2 separate regions of the Homo sapiens genome follow, and region 2 is linked to region 1. The links come from fine-mapping of genetic effects on gene expression. Tissue or cell type: whole blood. Region 1 holds a variant in brackets; the other region holds the start of a gene. All regions are shown on one strand. Distances are from middle to middle.

The links. PIP is the estimated chance that this variant, and not a neighbour inherited with it, causes the effect.
Region 2: ZNF487 starts here. The variant in region 1 is fine-mapped to the expression of ZNF487 in whole blood (TOPMed, PIP above 0.99).

What each region holds. Positions count from the first base shown.
Region 1 is chr10:43,507,125-43,515,228 of GRCh38, forward strand. It overlaps a transcript of ZNF487 not described here. Among named protein-coding and RNA genes, the nearest start is that of ZNF239, 63 kb to the right of the region's middle. The variant G/A (reference allele first, on the strand shown) is at 3,669.
Region 2 is chr10:43,433,759-43,441,862 of GRCh38, forward strand. It overlaps ZNF487 (zinc finger protein 487), which reads left to right and starts at 3,353. Exons shown (of 4, transcript NM_001355444.3): 1 at 3,353-3,504. RefSeq lists an enhancer at 2,808-2,877 and a silencer at 2,978-3,637.

The sequences.
Region 1 (8,104 bases):
GGTTTATGAGGCTCCCTCCTGTAGAGGCAGCAACAACACAGCACCCTAACCAGTTGGTGCTTGAGTTCAGCTTACCACGAGTCAGGCCAGATCTCTTTTGTTGCTGTGTCTACTCTGTGAACCATCACTGGCTACCTGGGGGAGCTATACAGATGTTATTTGTGATTGTGCACCCACCCCCTGGGACAGGTCTGCCCTTCCTGAGGTTAGCGGAAAGGAAGAAAGAAGACCACTACTCCAGGGAGAATTAAACATGGCACCATGGATGCCTAGTGAGTGTTTTTCAGGCAAGAGTAATGGCCTTGCCTGGCACTTGTGCTGTTGCTTCCCCTGCTTCTGTTCAGCGTGCTCTCCTGGTGTCTAAGAGCATGAAGGTGCAAATCTGTTGTAGCCCACAACCGAGGAGCTGATGAAAAAATAGAAGGAGCATTTGGTACCAGCCTCTCCTGCTGGAGAATGTAGCTCAACTGCTTTCCCCATGCAAAACCCCTAGCCAGTGCACCTGGGCTTTGCTTAGTATGGCTGCTTACCAAGAAGCCAGAGGGCTAAGCTTGTAATGGCACAGCTTGTTGGCTCCCACCTGGGCCATAAACAAAATGACCTTCCTGGATGTGGATCCTAACCCTGGAGATATTGATTGGCCCTCCCTGTCAGAAGGGGCAGCTGCCTACAAGGTGGGCCATTGGGCCCCTGAACCTTTCCCTGTTCTCATCCAGAAGGTCCACATGGTGATGGGACAGTGACTGAAATGGAAAGCTGCAACTTATTGTGGCTAGAAATCTAAAATATTGTTTGGCAATTTATATATAGACAGCAATAAAAAAGCCTGTGTCATGGAAAAGGCGGGACTGTTGCTAAGGATAGTTTCAGTCCACCCACCACTGGGCCATGGGCCTTGCAGGTTTCCACTGCAGTACTTTGCTGCCCGAGCCTCCATTGCAAGAAAAATCCTCCTCTGTAGGGTCATAGGGAAAAGCCACCCTATGGCACCCTGTGGCATTGTGAGGGGGTTAATTCAAACCCAGCTTAAGCCTGAGGTTCTTAAACCCTGTAAACCAACCATTGCCTTGCAGGGAAGGAGGAGGCCTCTCACCCTGATGATAATGATTTGAGGCTCTCTGGAGAAAGAAATCTATAAATATGAGCAGAATAAAAAGAACTTCCCCTCCTTGTCTGTATGTTTTTAGGGGAGTTTCTGAATATAAAATAGAGACTAAATAAGTATGCCTCACCTTAACTGTTGTCTCTCCAAGATACCACATGGTCATAGCACTTATGACCTTAAAATGTACCGTGGTGGACATGGAATCAGTGAGCAATAAATTAAAATGAAGTCATTGGCACTTAACAACTTGGCTTAATGAAAAGGGACCTTGTGAAAACCACAGTTAAAATAATATCGGGCTGGGCACGGTGGCTCATGCCTGTAATCCCAGCACTTTGGGAGGCCGAGGCGGGTGGATCACCTGAGGTCAGGAGTTTGAGACCAGCCTGGCCAACATGGCAAAATCCCGTCTCTACTAAAAATACAAAAATACAAAAAACAAAAACAAAAACAAACAAACAAAAAAACTAGCCAGGTGTAGTGGTGCATGCCTGTAATCCCAGCTACTCGGGAGGCTGAGGCAGGAGAATCGTTTGAACCTGGGAGGCGGAGGTTGTAGTGAGCTAAGATTGCATCACTGCACTTCAGCCTGGGTGACAAGAGTGAAACTACACCTCAAAATAAATAAATAAATAAAATTAAATAAAATAGTTAATGTGGCCAATGTAAATTAAAACAGGGCCTTCAAGAATTAAGGCTGGGCACGGTGGCTCCCAGCATTTCAAGAGGCTGAGGCAGGCAGATTGCTTGAACTCAGGAGTTCAAGACCAGCTGGGGCACATGACAAAACGCTCTCTGTACTAAAAATACAAAAATTAGCTAGGCATGGTGGTGCACACCTGTAATCCCAGCTACTCGGGTGGCTGAGGCATGAGAATCACTTGAACACAGGAGGTGGAGGTTGCAGTGAGTCAAGATTGCACTACTGCACTCCAGCGTGGGTGACAGAGCAAGACTCTGTCCAAAAAAAAAAAAAAGAATTGAAACTTGTATGAAGGGGTGATTATCCCACTGCACCTGCATCTAGCAGCCAAACTTGGCCTTTTTAACCTGGAAAGCATGAATGTGAATAGTGCCTCATGGTGGATTACTGGAACCTTAAGGTCCTCAGACCTGATACCCAATATTATTGAAGTTACTGACTCTATCTAATAAACAACTGGTAAATATTTTGCTATTGTAGATTTGGCTTGTATTAGGGTTCTCTAGAGGGACAGAACTAATGGAACATATATATATATATATATATATATCATGGGAGTTTATTAAGGATTAACTCACACAAACACAAGGCCCCACAACACGCCATCTGCAAGCTGAGGAGCAAGGAGAACCAGTCCAACTTCCAAAAGGATTAGTTCCAAAAGGATTGGAGTCCAATGTTCGAGGGCAGGAAGCATCCAGCATGGGAGAAAGATGTAGGCGGGGAGGCTAGGCCAGTCTCTCTTTTCACGTATTTCTGCCTATATATATTCTAGCCTCGCTGTCAGCTGATTAGATTGTGCCCACCCAGATTAAGGTGGGTCTGCCTTTCCCAGCCCACTGACTCAAATGTTAATCTTCTTTGGCAACCCCCTCACAGACACGCCCGGGATCCATACTTTGTATCCTTCAATACAATTAAGTTGACACTCAGTATTAACCATCACAAGTCCACCGGTTGTCAACTTGAACCCATACACATCTCCTGAGATCATATATAATCTTCAAATAAAGACAATAATAAGGTCATAATTATGCCTAACATAATACAACTGTCCTTCATACAATGGGAAACGTACCAATTCCCAACCCAAATACTATTACATAAAGTTAACAATACATAAATGCTGATGTGAAGTCAATAAATCTTATGTCACATGATAAAGGGAAAGGAAATAAAATGAAGATTTTTTTAGTACAAGTATATATATGCACAAACATGTTCTTAACAAAAGAGGGAGGAAATATGACAATTACAGTCCTCGTTTCTGCAGCTGGTCACATGGTCATAGCTGGTATTGATGACTACCTTCATCTATTACCCATTCTGTATTCCCTTTGCCTTCAGCAAGCACCTCAGCAGGTCATGGTTTTTTTCCTGGTGGAGTGACCCAAACCTTCATTCCTGAAGGGTCTGGGTCATTTGTAGTCCTGGCTGGATTGGGCTGTTGTAGTTTCCCATTGATCTAATTACAGCACATGGTAATACCAAGAGACACCCTAATGGATCTCCTGTATTCCATGCATACTCTTCCTTACCTCCATTGTGGAGTAGTAGACTGATTCCATCTTGATAATCCGGGACAACCATCCCAGGCAACACTGTAACTCCCTTTTTTTTGTTTGTTTTTTTTGAGAAGGAGTCTCACTCTGTCGCCCAGGCTGGAGTGCAATGGCATGATCTTGGTTCACTGCAACCTCTGCCTCCCGGGTTCAAGCAATTCTCCTGCCTCAGCCTCCTGAGTAGCTGGGATTACAGGCACATGCCACCATGCCTGGCTAATTTTTGTATTTTTAGTAGAGACAGGGTTTCACCATGTTGGTCAGGCTGGTCTCAAACTCCTGACCTCATGATCCGCCC[G/A]CCTTGGCCTCCCAAAGTGCGGGGATTATAGGCGTGAGCCACCGTGCCCGGCCCTGTAACTCCCTTCTTAGCCGGTTCACTTAAAGGTAGAAGAAGCCCAAAGTGTTCAGGTGGCAATCTTCCAGTTTAATGGAATTGTTGTTGGGTCTCCTGGTGGCAGTGTTCCTCCCTATGGAACTAAGACCTCTAGGCCAGCAGAACGTAATTTTGCGGGAACAGGAAGCAAAAATTTTGCTTGTGGAACACTAGGGGTGATGGTAACTGGTGCCACTTTCACTTCCATCCCTTGATTCCTGGACCCATGAATCCTGGCTATGGGAGAAACAGTACCATATATTGGATGCTGATTCAGAGCATACACAGCCTTCTGGAGAACTTTGCCCCAGCCTTGCAAAATATTGTCACCTAGTTGGTGTTATATTTGTGACTTCAAAAGGCCATTCCACTGTTCTGTCAATCCAGCTGCTTCAGGATGATGGGGAACATGGTTAGATGAGTCAATTCCATGAGCATGAGCCCACTGCCGCACTTTTTTAGCCATAAAGTAAGCACCTTGGTTAGAGGACGTGCTGTGTGGAATACTGTGATGGTGGATAAGGCATTCTGTGAGTCCACAGATGGTAGTCTTGGCAGAAGCATTGTGTGCAGGATAGGCAAACCCATATCCAGAGTAAGTGTCTATTCTAATGACGACAAACCTCTGTCCATTCCATGATGGAAGAGGTCCAATATAATCAACCTGCCACCAGGTAGCTGGCTGATCACCCGAGGAATGGTGCCATATCAAGGGCTCAGTGTTGGTCTCTGCTGCTAGCAAATAGGGCACTCATCAGTGACCATAGCCAGGTCAGCCTCGGTGAGTGGAAGTCCATGTTGCTGAGCCCATACATAACCTCCACTCTTGCCACCATGGCCACTTTGTTCATGGGCCCATTAGGCGACGACAGGGGTGGCTGAGGAAAGAGGCTGAGTGCTGTCCACGGAACGGGTCATCCTATCCACTTGATTATTAAAATCCTCCTCTGCTGAGGTCACCTGTTGGTGAGCACTCACATGGGATACAAATATCTTCACAGTTTTTGACCACTGAGAGAGATCCATCCACACACCTCTTCCCCAAGTTTGTCACCAATTTTCCAGTAATGCTTCTTCCAAGTCCCTGACCATCCAGCCAAACCATTGGCTACAGCCAATTAATCAATATATAATCGCACATGTGGCCATTTCTCCTTCCATGTAAAGTGCACAACCAGGTGCACTGCTCAACGTTCTGCCCACTGGGAAGATTTCCCTTCACCGCTGTCCTTCAGAGATGTCCTAGAAAGGGGCTGTAGTGCTGCAGCTGTCCACTTTCAGGTGATGCCTGCATATCGTGCAGAATCATCTGTGAACCAGGCCCTAGTCCTCTTTTCCTCTGTTCACTGATCATAGGGAACTCCCCATGAGGCCATCGGTGCAGGCTGGGGGAGAGAAGGCATGGTGGCAGGAGTGGAGACCATGGGCATTTGAGCCACTTCCTCATGTAACTCACTTGTGCCTTCAGGACCTGCTCGAGCCTGATCACATATATGCCACTTCCGTTTGATGATGGAATGCTGCTGCGCATGACCCACTTTATGGCTATATGAGTCAGAAAGCACCCAGTTCATAATAGGCAGTTCAGGTTGCCAGGTGACTTGATGACCCATAGTCAAACCTTCAGTTTCCACCAGAGCCCAGTAATAGGCCAAGAACTGTCTCTCATAAGGAGAGTAGTTATCTGCAGAAGATGGCAGGGCCTTGCTCCAAAATCCTAGAAGCTTCCATCGTGATTCACCTATGGGGGCCTGCCAAAGGCTCCAAACAGCACCCTGTCTGTCACTGACACCTCCAGCACCATTGGATCTGTTGGGTCATATGGCTCAAGTGGCAGAGCAGCTTGCACAGCAGCCTGGACCTATTGCAGAGCATTCTTCTGTTCTGGACCCCACTCAAAACTGACAGCCTTTCGGGTCACTTGATAAATGGGCTGGAGTAACACACCCAGATGAGGAATGCTTTGCCTCCAAAATCCAAATAGGCCTACTAGGCATTGTGCCTTTCTTGGTTGAAGGAATGGTCAAATGCAGCAACTTATTCTTCACCTTAGAAGGAATATCTCAACAGGCCCCACACCACTGGACCCCTAGAAATTTTACTGAGGTAGAAGTTCCCTGAATTTAAGTCAGTTTTATTTCTCATCCTCTGGCACACAAATGTCTCACCAGTAAGTCCAGTGTGTTTGCTACTTCTTGCTCACTGGATCCAGTCAGCATAATATCATCAATGTAATGGACCAGTGTGATATCTTGCGGCAGCGAAAAGTGATCAAGGTGTCTCCAAATAAGAAAAAGCGATCAAGGTGCTTCCGAATAAGATTATGACACAAAGCCAGAGAATTGATATACCCTGGAGGTAGGACAGTAAAGGTATATTGCTGGCCTTGCCAGCTGAAGGCAAATTGCTTTTGGTGGGCCTTATGGACAGGAATGGAGGAAAAGACATTTGCCAAGACAATGGCTGCATACCACCTACCAGGAAATGTGCTAATTTGCTCAAGCAATGAAACCACATCTGGTACAGCAGCTGCAATTGGAGTCACCACTTTGTTAAGCTTACAATAATCCATGGTCATTCTCCAAGATCTGTCGTCTGCACAGGCTAAATGGGAGAGCTGAATGGGGATGTGGTGGGAATCACCACCCCAGCGTCTTTCAAGTCCTTGGTAGTAGCACTAATCTCCACAGTCTCTCCAGGGATGTGATATTGTTTTTGATTTACTATTTTTCTAGGTAAAGGCAGCTCTAATGGCTTTCATTTGGCCTTTACCACCATAATAGCCCTTATCCTACCAGTCAGGGAGCCAATATGGGAGTTCTGCCAGCTGCTAAGTATGTCTATGCCAATTATGCATTCTGGCACTCAGGAATGACCACAGGGTAAGTCCGGGGACCCACTGGACCCACTGTAAGTTGGGCCTGAGCTAAAATTTCATTAATTACCTGATCTCTATAAGCCCCTACTTTAACTGTAGGACCAGTGATGTTTTGGGTCCCCTGGAATCGTTAGCTCAGAGCCAGTGTCCAGCAGTCCCCGAAATGTCTGATCATTTCACTTTCCCCAGTGCACAGTTACCCTGGTAAAAGGTTGGAGGTCTCCTTGTGGAAGGATGGGAGAAAGAGTCACTATGTAAATTGTCGGTAATGTAGTAGGGTTCTTCCTCAAGGGGACCTGGTCTCCCCTTCATTCAAGGGGTTCTGGATCTGTAAACTGGCTCAAGTCTGGAAATTGATTGAGGGGTTGTGATTCTCTAGTTTGTTTTTTTGTTTGTTTTTGTTGTTTGTTTTTGAGACAGAGTCTCCCTCTGTCATTCAGGCTGGAATGCATTGGTGTGATCTCGACTCACTGCAACCTCCACTTCCTGGGTTCAAGCAATTCTCCAGCCTCAGCCTCCTGAGTAGCTGGGATTACAGGTTTGTGCCACCATGCCTGGCTAATTTTTGTATTTTTAGTACAGATGGGGTTTCACCATGTTGGCCAGGCTAGTCTTGAACTCCTGAGCTCAGGTGATCCACCTGCCTTGGCCTCCCAAAGTGCTGGGATTATAGGTGTGAGCCACTGTGCTGGCTGATTCTCTGTTTTTATAATTCAAATTAGACTTTTGTCCCTTCGACTTAGAAATTTTCTGCTTATATAAATTAAGTAGGAATGCAGTAGGCTTCCTATCACTTTCACTTGTAGGAACACCATGATTAGCCAATGCTAGAGCTCTACATTAGTCAGGATCTTCTGATTGCCACTTTGCCTCTGCTGTCCATCAGAGTAGCCACGCCCACCTTGCCTTTGATGGTTGAGTGCTGCCACTTGGCCCCTGCCACCTTGGGATCCAATTATTCCCATTATATTTAAATTTTGTAGTTGAGTGTCTGCAGTTCCCACTGTTAGATCTGACATACAGAGAAGAGCAATTAGAGGGCTCTTCAAAGATGCAGGTGTTGCCCTCACAAATCTGTTTCACAAGGCATTGGTCAAGGGTATATCTTCTGGGCCCTCCCAGCTGGGATGAGTAGGTCTAAAGTGACTAATCCACTCCACCATCCCAATCTCCCTAAGCCTTTGTATCCCTTCCTCTACGTTAAACCAAGGGAGATGAGGCATATCCAGCTTGCTCACAGTGGATCATCTTCTTATCTGTATTTTAGCTAACCAAGCAAATAAACTATTAGAACCTTTTTTAACTACCCAAGTGGCAACATTGAATGCAGAGTCCGTACTTAGTGGACTCAAATCAATAAATTCAGCCTGATCAAACTTTGTGTTCTTTCCACCATTATCCCACACCCTTAATATCCATTCCCATGCCTGTTCTGCAGATTTATTTATATGAATTAGAAAACTCAAGCAGTTCCTTTTGAGTG
Region 2 (8,104 bases), 73 kb before region 1:
AGACAGTGCGAGACACCATCTCAAAAAAAAAAAAAAAAAAAAATCAGCTGGGTGTGGTGGTGACCCCCTGTCGTCCCAGCTACCGGGAGGCTGAGAGGCTGAGGTGGGAAGATTGCTTGAGCTGTCAAGGCTGCAGCGAGCTGAGATCCTGCCACTGCACTCCTGGCTAGGGGATGGTGCAAGACCCTGTCTCAAAGAGTTAAAAAAAAAAAGAAAGAAAAATTTATTTTGATTTTTCATTAGAGTATAGGCTCTGAAGTTTCATTTGTGCATATGAGTTACGTATCCTTCATATATAAGTGTATCTATATTTGCCGTGTCTACCAGTCAGACTACAAAAGGCATACATATGGTGGAATGATGATTTGCTATTTCAGTGAATGCATATATTCCTCACTGTGAACTAGTTATTATTTGGGGCTGTTAGTTGCTGCAATGAGACATCACACCTCTGAAACCATGGGGTGTCTTAGGAGACTTGTTAGAGGGCTTGTTATACCATTTGGACTTGTGGCTGGTGATTTTGGGGAGGGTCCAAGGACAGGGGTGTGTTTTGGATTGGTGCTGTACTAACAGGGGCAACTCAAAGATTATTATTATTTTTTTTTTTGAGATGGAGTCTCGCTTTTTCACCCAAGCTGGAGTGCAGTGGCGCGATCTCGGCTCACTGCAGGCTCCGCCCCGCGGGGTTCACGCCATTCTCCTGCCTCAGCCTCCCGAGTAGCTGGGACTACAGGCGCCCGCCACCTCGCCCGGCTAATTTTTTGTATTTTTAGTAGAGACGGGGTTTCACCGTGTTAGCCAGGATGGTCTCGATTTCCTGACCTCGTGATCCGCCCGCCTCGGCCTCCCAAAGTGCTGGGATTACAGGCGTGAGCCACCGCGCCCGGCCACTCAAAGATTATTTCAACAATTTTAGGTGGGGCGCGGTGGCTCATGCCTGTAATCCCAGCACTCTGGGAGGCCGAGGCAGGCGATCACTTGAGGTCAGGAGTTTGAGACCAGCCTGGCCAACCTGGTGAAACCCCATCTCTACTAGGTGGCAGGTGCCTGTAATCCCAGCTATTCGAGAGGCTGAGACAGGAGAATTGCTTGAACCTGGGAGGCAGAGGTTGCAGTGAGCCGAAATTGTGCTACTTCACTCCAGCCTGGGCGACAGAGCAAGACTCCTTCTCAAAAAAAAAAAAAAAAAATTTTTTTTAAATCCAGAAAGCAGGAGGAATAGAGAGGAGCTAAAGCTGTCATTGGAGAAAAAGCAGTAATTACTCATGCTAGCTGAAGAAGGGATGTTTATTCTTCTGTGTGTGTGGTTGCGCAGTGCCAGTTTTTATTTATGCAGGCAAGATCACTGATCGGAATTATTTTCTCCTTCCCTCAGTCACAGAAAGAACTCGTCTGATATCAATTTTCTGTGAACCTGTTTATGTTCATCAAGTAATCCAGGCCAGCTACCGTGGGTCTCAGGGCTTTTTTTTTTTTTTTTTTTTTTTTTTGGGACAGAGTCTCGCTCTTGTTGCCCAGGCTGGAGTGCAATGGCGAGATCTCGGCTCACAGCAACCTCTGCCTCCCGGGTGCAAGCTATTCTCCTGCCTCAGCCTCCCGAATAACTGGGATCACAGGCATGTGCCACCACACCCAGCTAATTTTGAATTTTTAGTAGAGTTGGAGTTTCACCATGTAGGCCAGACTGATCTTAAACTCCTGATCTCAGGTGATCCACCCGCCTTGGCCTCCCAATGTGTTAGGATTACAGGCGTAAGCCACCACGCCCGGGCTTTTTATTTTTTTTCTTAATGATGCTGCACCTAATCACATTTAGGTGGCAGGCAAAAGAATATTGCTTAGCTGCTTTGCTACAGAAATGACAACTCTTGGGCAGGGGCGCGGTGGCTCACGCCTGTAATCCTACCACTTTGGGAGGCCGAGGCCAGTGGATCACCTGAGGTCAAGAGTTCGACACCAGGCCGGGCACGGTGGCTCATGCCTGTAATCCCAGCACTTTGGGAGGCCGAGACGGGCGGATCACGAGGTCAGGAGATCAAGACCAACCTGGCTAACACGGTGAAACCCCGTCTCTACTAAAAATACAAAAAATTAGCCGGGCGTGGTGGCGGGCGCCTGTAGTCCCAGCTACTCGGGAGGCTGAGGCAAGACAATGGCGTGACCCTGGGAGGCGGAGCTTGCAGTGAGCTGAGATCGCGCCACTGCACTCCACCCTGGGTGACAGAGCGAGACTCCGTCTCAAAAAAAAAAAAAAAAAAAAAAAAAAAGAGTTCGACACCAGCCTGGCCAAAATGGTGAAACCCCATCTCTACTAAAAACAAAAAAAATTAACCGGGCGTGGTGGCGGACGACTGTAATCCCAGCTACTCGGGAGCCTGAGGTAGGAGAATCACTTGAACTCGGGAGGCGGAGGTTGCAGTGAGCCAAGATCGCGCCACTGCACTCCAGCCTGGGCAACAAGAGCGAAACTTCGTCTCCAAAAAAAAAAAAAAAAAAAAGGACAACTTTTGATCCCTGAGGCTGCTAATTCCAACTGTGTGCATGTGCTTAACAAATACCTCCGCACCCAGGCCTGGGAAGTTGGCTGATTTGTGTACAGCAAATACGGCAGGCCTGATGTAGCAGAACTCTGACGAAAACGAACTGGACGCGTATTTCTCCTGCAGCGAAGGTCACGCTGCTGACAGCCTCTGCTTTGCACTTTGTCCCTGGGAAGGAGGCCTGTGGCCAGTCCTACCTCCTGGAAAGCCGGGGTGCGTCAGAGGACCTGATGCGGAGCGGGGACCCCATCCTCTCCGTGTCTCCCCAAGAGCCGGCGGCAGAGGCTGCCTGCGCTCCTTAAGCTAGGTCAGTTCTCTGGCCCGCAGTTCTCGTTCTCCTAACATCCTCCGCAGAAAACGACCTTCATTTTTTCCTCTTGCGCCAGTCTTGAAGCGGGGCGTCCTTTGGGCTCACGTTGCGGCGCCCAGCGGCCTCAAGCGTCAGCTGCCTCCAGGGCCTCAGGAGCAGTGGCTAGGGCCTGCCCTCCAGCGCCCGGGGTCCTCGGCCCAGCCCTGCTCCGAGCGCGTCACAATGGCGTCGCGGCCCCGCCCCCGGACGCCCAGCCGCGGTCCCAGCGACCTTCGCTTTCGTGGGGAAGCCGGACTGCGCCGTGTCTTCCTGAAGAAGGCTGGGGTAAGAGTCCGGCCAGCGGACAAGAGGGCAGCTGGTAGCAGGGTGGGATGCCCGTGGCATAGGGCCGAGCCCCCGCTAGGCACGCGGGAGCAGCAAGGCTTCCGGAAGCGCAGGGAGCGCTGGACTGGCGGGCGCCCGGGATTCGCGCAGGCCCCGCCCCTCGGCGGCCCCGCCCAGGGAGCGCTGCGGCAGTTTCCATGGTGAGATGGTCAACAAGCCTGTAAGTTCCTCAGCTACGACTACCAGGTACCTCGGGTTCCTCCCTCCTCCGAGAGACCGCCGAGGTGCGGGCTGTGAGAGGGGGAGCGTGGAGCCTCCGAGGCCGAGGTGAGGGGCGGCCGGCGGGCAGGGGCCGGGTCTGAGGTCGAGGGCCGCACACCCAGGATCGAGCGGGGACTGGGCCCGCTGGGGGTGGGGACCGTGGGGCTGGGATTTGGGATCAGGGCGAGTCGTGGCAGAGAGAACCCGGAGGATCTTTGACCCCAGTGCGGGAGCGGCCAGCCCACCCTAGAGAAGCGAGACAAGGGCAACCAGAAGGAACCGAGTCTGAGGAAGCGCTTCCTCTGGGCAGGGATATTGGGAGAGTCCTGGACGAGTGACCCTGGACCTAGGAGGCATGAGAGGTCTACACACACTTGCAAGGATACCTTCATGATTGTTGAGTTGTGGTGAGAAAAGAGGCTCTTTTTAGTTTATTTTTTAAGGCAGTACATTCACATCCTTAAGAGTCAGAAACTTGCACAAGGCCTTATTACTCAAAACTCCCTTTTCCCAGTTCCTTCTGAGGAAATAGTTGCAAATCTTTGAACTTTTTTCCTCCGGAAATTTTCTTTTTTTCTCTTACATCGGCAGCTCTTCACTGTGTTCTTCCTTCATTAGCTTTACTAAGTTTGTATTCTTTGGTTGGAAATATTTATTTATTTATTTATTTATAAATAGAAACAGGGGTATCACTATGTTGCTCAGGCTGGTCTTGAACTCCTGGGCTCAAGTGATTCTCCTGCTTTAGCTTTCCAAAGTGCGGGGATTACAGGCTGAACCACCGCCTGCCACCGAAATATTTCTTCATTGAGTTCCTTTGCCTCCTAGTGTTACTTTTCTGCTGTGTGTGTAATAGCCATTTGTTTTTTCTTTCTCCTTTCTGGTCATATCCTTAAATACATTTTGCACTAATTCCTTTTGAAACCTCATCATGGAGAGAACTTGAATTTAGCAGATTAGGGGTGAGTGCAGGCTTTTGTCTTAGGTTCCATATATATATATATTTTGAGGTGGAGTCTCCCTCTGTCGCCCAGGCTGGAGTGCAGTGGCGTGATTTTGGCTCACTGAAACCTCCACCTCCTGGCTTCAAGCAATTCTCCTGCCTCAGCCTCCCAAGTGACGAGGGTTACAGGCACGTGCCACCACACCCGGCTAATTTTTGTATTTTTAGTAGAGACAGGGTTTTGCCTTGTTGGCCAGGCTGGTCTCGAATTATTGACCTCAGGTGATCCACCTGCCTCAGCCCCCCAAAGTGCTGGGATTACAGGCGTGAGCCACTGCACCCAGCCCCCATATATTAAGAAATATACCCTTGTGTATTGTTGGTAAGAATGTAAAATGGTACAGCAGCTATGGAAAACAGTATGGCAGTTCCCTCAAAAAATTAACAAATAGAATTGCCATATGATCCAGCAGTACCACTTCTGGGTCTGAATCCAAGAGAAATGAAAGCGGGGACTCAGTTACTTGTACAGTCATGTTCATAGCAGCATTATTTGCAATAGTCAAAAGGGAGAGGTAACCCCAGTGTCCATTGATAGATGGATAAACAAAATGTGTCATATACAATAGAATATCATTCAGCCTTAGGAAGAAAATCTTGGCTGGATGCAGCGGCTCATGCTGGTAATCCCAGCACTTTGGGAGGCCAAGGTGGGAGGATTGCTTGAGTCCAGGAGTTCCAGACCAGCCTGAGCAACATAGCGAGATCCTGTTTCCACAAAAAATAAAATAAAATAAAGAATACAAAAATTAGCTGGGCAGGCCGGGCGCGGTGTCTCACGCCTGTAGTCCCAGCACTTTGGGAGGTCGAGGTGGGTGGATCAGAGGGTCAGGAGTTTGAGACCAGCCTGGCCAATATGGTGAAACCTTGTCTCTACTAAAAGTACAAAAATATTAGCCGGGCATGGTGGCACATGCCTGTAATCCCAGCTACTTGAGAGGCTGAGGCAGAAGAATTGCTTGAATCCGGGAGGCCGAGGTTGCAGTGAGCCGAGATCACGCCACTGCACTCCAGCCTGGGTGACAGAACGAGATTCCGTCTCAAAAAAAAATCAGCTGGGCATTGTGGCATGTGCCTGTAGTCCTAGCTACTCTGGAAGCTGAAGTCGGAGGATTACATGTGCCTAGGAGGTTGAGGCTTCAGTGAGCCATGATTGCACTGCTGTACTCCACCCTGAGTGACAGAGCAAGACTCCATCTCTTCAAAAAATAAAAATAAGATGGCCGGGTGCGGTGGCTAACGCCTGTAATCCCAGCACTTGGGGAGGCCGAGGAGGGCAGATCACCTAAGGTCAGGAGTTCAAGACCAGCCTGGCCAACATGGTGAAACCCTGTCTCTACTAAAAATACAAAAATTAGCTGGGCATGGTGGTGGGCGCCTGTAATCCCAACTACTCAGGAAGCTGAGGCAGGGAGAATTGCTTGAACCTGGGAGGTGGAGGTTGCAGTGAGCCGAGATGGCACCACTACACTCTAGCCTGGGTGACAGAGTGAGACTCCATCTCAAAAATAAATAAATAAGTGAAAATAAAAAAGAAAATGTCATATGCTGCAACATGGATGAATGTTGACGATATTATGTTAAGTGAAGTAAACCAGTAATGGACAAATATTGTATGATCCCCACTTATATGAGAATCTGAAGTAGTCAAATTCATGTAAACAGAAAAGTAGAATGGTGGTTGCTAGAGGCTGCGGTAAGGAGGAATGGGAAGTTGTTTAATGGGTACAGAGTTTCAGATTTGCAAGATGAAAATGTTCTAGAGATCTGTTTCACAACAATGTGAATCTACTTAAGACTGAACTGTACACTTTAAAAAGGTTAATTGGTAAGTTTTGTTTTATATATATATATATTTTTTTTTTTGAGGCGAAGTTTCACTCATGTTGCCCAGGCTGGAGTGCAGTGGAGAGATCTCAGCTAACTGCAGCCTCTGCCTGCCCGGCTCAAGCAATTCTCCTGCCTCAGCCTCCCGAGTAGCTAGGATTACAGGTGCCCGCCACCATGCCTGGCTAATTTTTTATATTTTTAGTAGAGACGGGCTTTTGGCATGTTGGCCAGGCTGATCTCAAACTCCTGGCCTCAGGTAATACGCCCGCCTCGGCCTCCCAAAGTGCTGGGATTACAGGTGTGAACCACTGTGCCCTGCCTATATTTTTAATCAAAGGAGTTTAAGGACGGGCACAGTGGCTCACACCTATAATCCCAGCACTTTGGGAGTCCGAAGTGGTAGGATCACCTGAGATCAGCAGTTTGAGACCAGCCTGTTCAACATGGTAAAACCCTATCTGTACCAAAAAATACAAAAATTAGCCCGGCATGGTAATGCTTACCTGTAGTCCCAGCTACTTGGGAGGCTGATGTGGGAGAATCTCTTGAATCTGGGAGGCAGAGGCAGCAGTGAGCTGAGATTGCGCCACTGCACTCCAGCCTGGGCAACAGAGTGAGACTCTGTCTCAAAAAAAAAAAAGAAAAAAAGAAACAGAAGACTACCCTCATATTTGTGGTCCTTTGTGTAGTTCCGCCTCATGGCTCCCTCCTTTGCCCTAGGGTAACCACTGTCTTCAACTTTATGCTTGTCACTTAACTTGCTTTTCTTTATAATTTGACTAAAATTGTTTGTATCCCAAAAAAAGACATATTGAGTAGTTTTGCATAACCTTGGACTTTTTTTTTGTTGTTTGTTTTTGAGAGAGTCACTGTGTTGCCTAGGCTGGAGTGCAGTTGTGTGATCATAGTTCACTGTAGCCTCGATCTTCTTGGCTCCAGAAATCCTCCCACCTTAGCCTCCCAAGTAGCTAGGACCACAGGTAAATGCTACCACACCTGGTTAAATTTTTTTTTTTTTTTTTTTTTTTTTTTTTTTTTTGGTGGAGACAGGGTCTCCCTGTATTGCCCAGGCTGGTCTTGAACTCGTGGGCTTAAGCAATCCTTCCACCTCAGCCTCTCAAAGTGCAGGTATTACAGGCATGAGCCAGGCTGCTTTCAAACTCCTAACCTCAAGTGATCCACTTGGCTTGGCCTCCCAAAGTGCTGGGAGTATAGACATGAGCCACTGCACCAGACCGCTTTGCCTTTTTTTTTGAGACGGAGTCTCACTCCTTCGCCCAGGCTGGAGTGCAGTGGCACGATCTCGGCTCACTGCAACTTCCGCCTCCCGGGTTCCAGCAATTCTCCTGTCTCAGCCTCCCGACTAGCTGGGACTACAGACACCTGCCACCGGGCCCGGCTAATTTTTTGTATTTTTAGTAGAGACGGGGTTTCACCTTGTTGGTCAGGTTGGTCTCGAACTCCTGACCTCAGGTGATCCACCCACCTCGGCCTCCTAAAGTTCTGGGATTACAGGCATGAGCCACCGCGCCTGGCCAATTTTTGTAGAGACAGGGTTTTGCCATGTTGCCCCAGCTAGTCAGGGTCTCTCTGTCACCCAGGCGGGAGTTGCAGTGGTGCGATCTCGGCTCACTGCAACGTCTGCCTCCTGGGTTCAAGTGATTCTCCTGCCTCAGCCTCCTGAGTACCTTGGATTATAGGTGCATGCCACTGTGCTTGGCTGATTTTTGTATTTCTAGTTGAGACGGGGTTTCACCATGTTGGCCAGGCATGTCTTGAACTCCTGACCTCAAGTGATCCACCCGCGTTGGCCTCCCAAAGTTCTGGGATTAC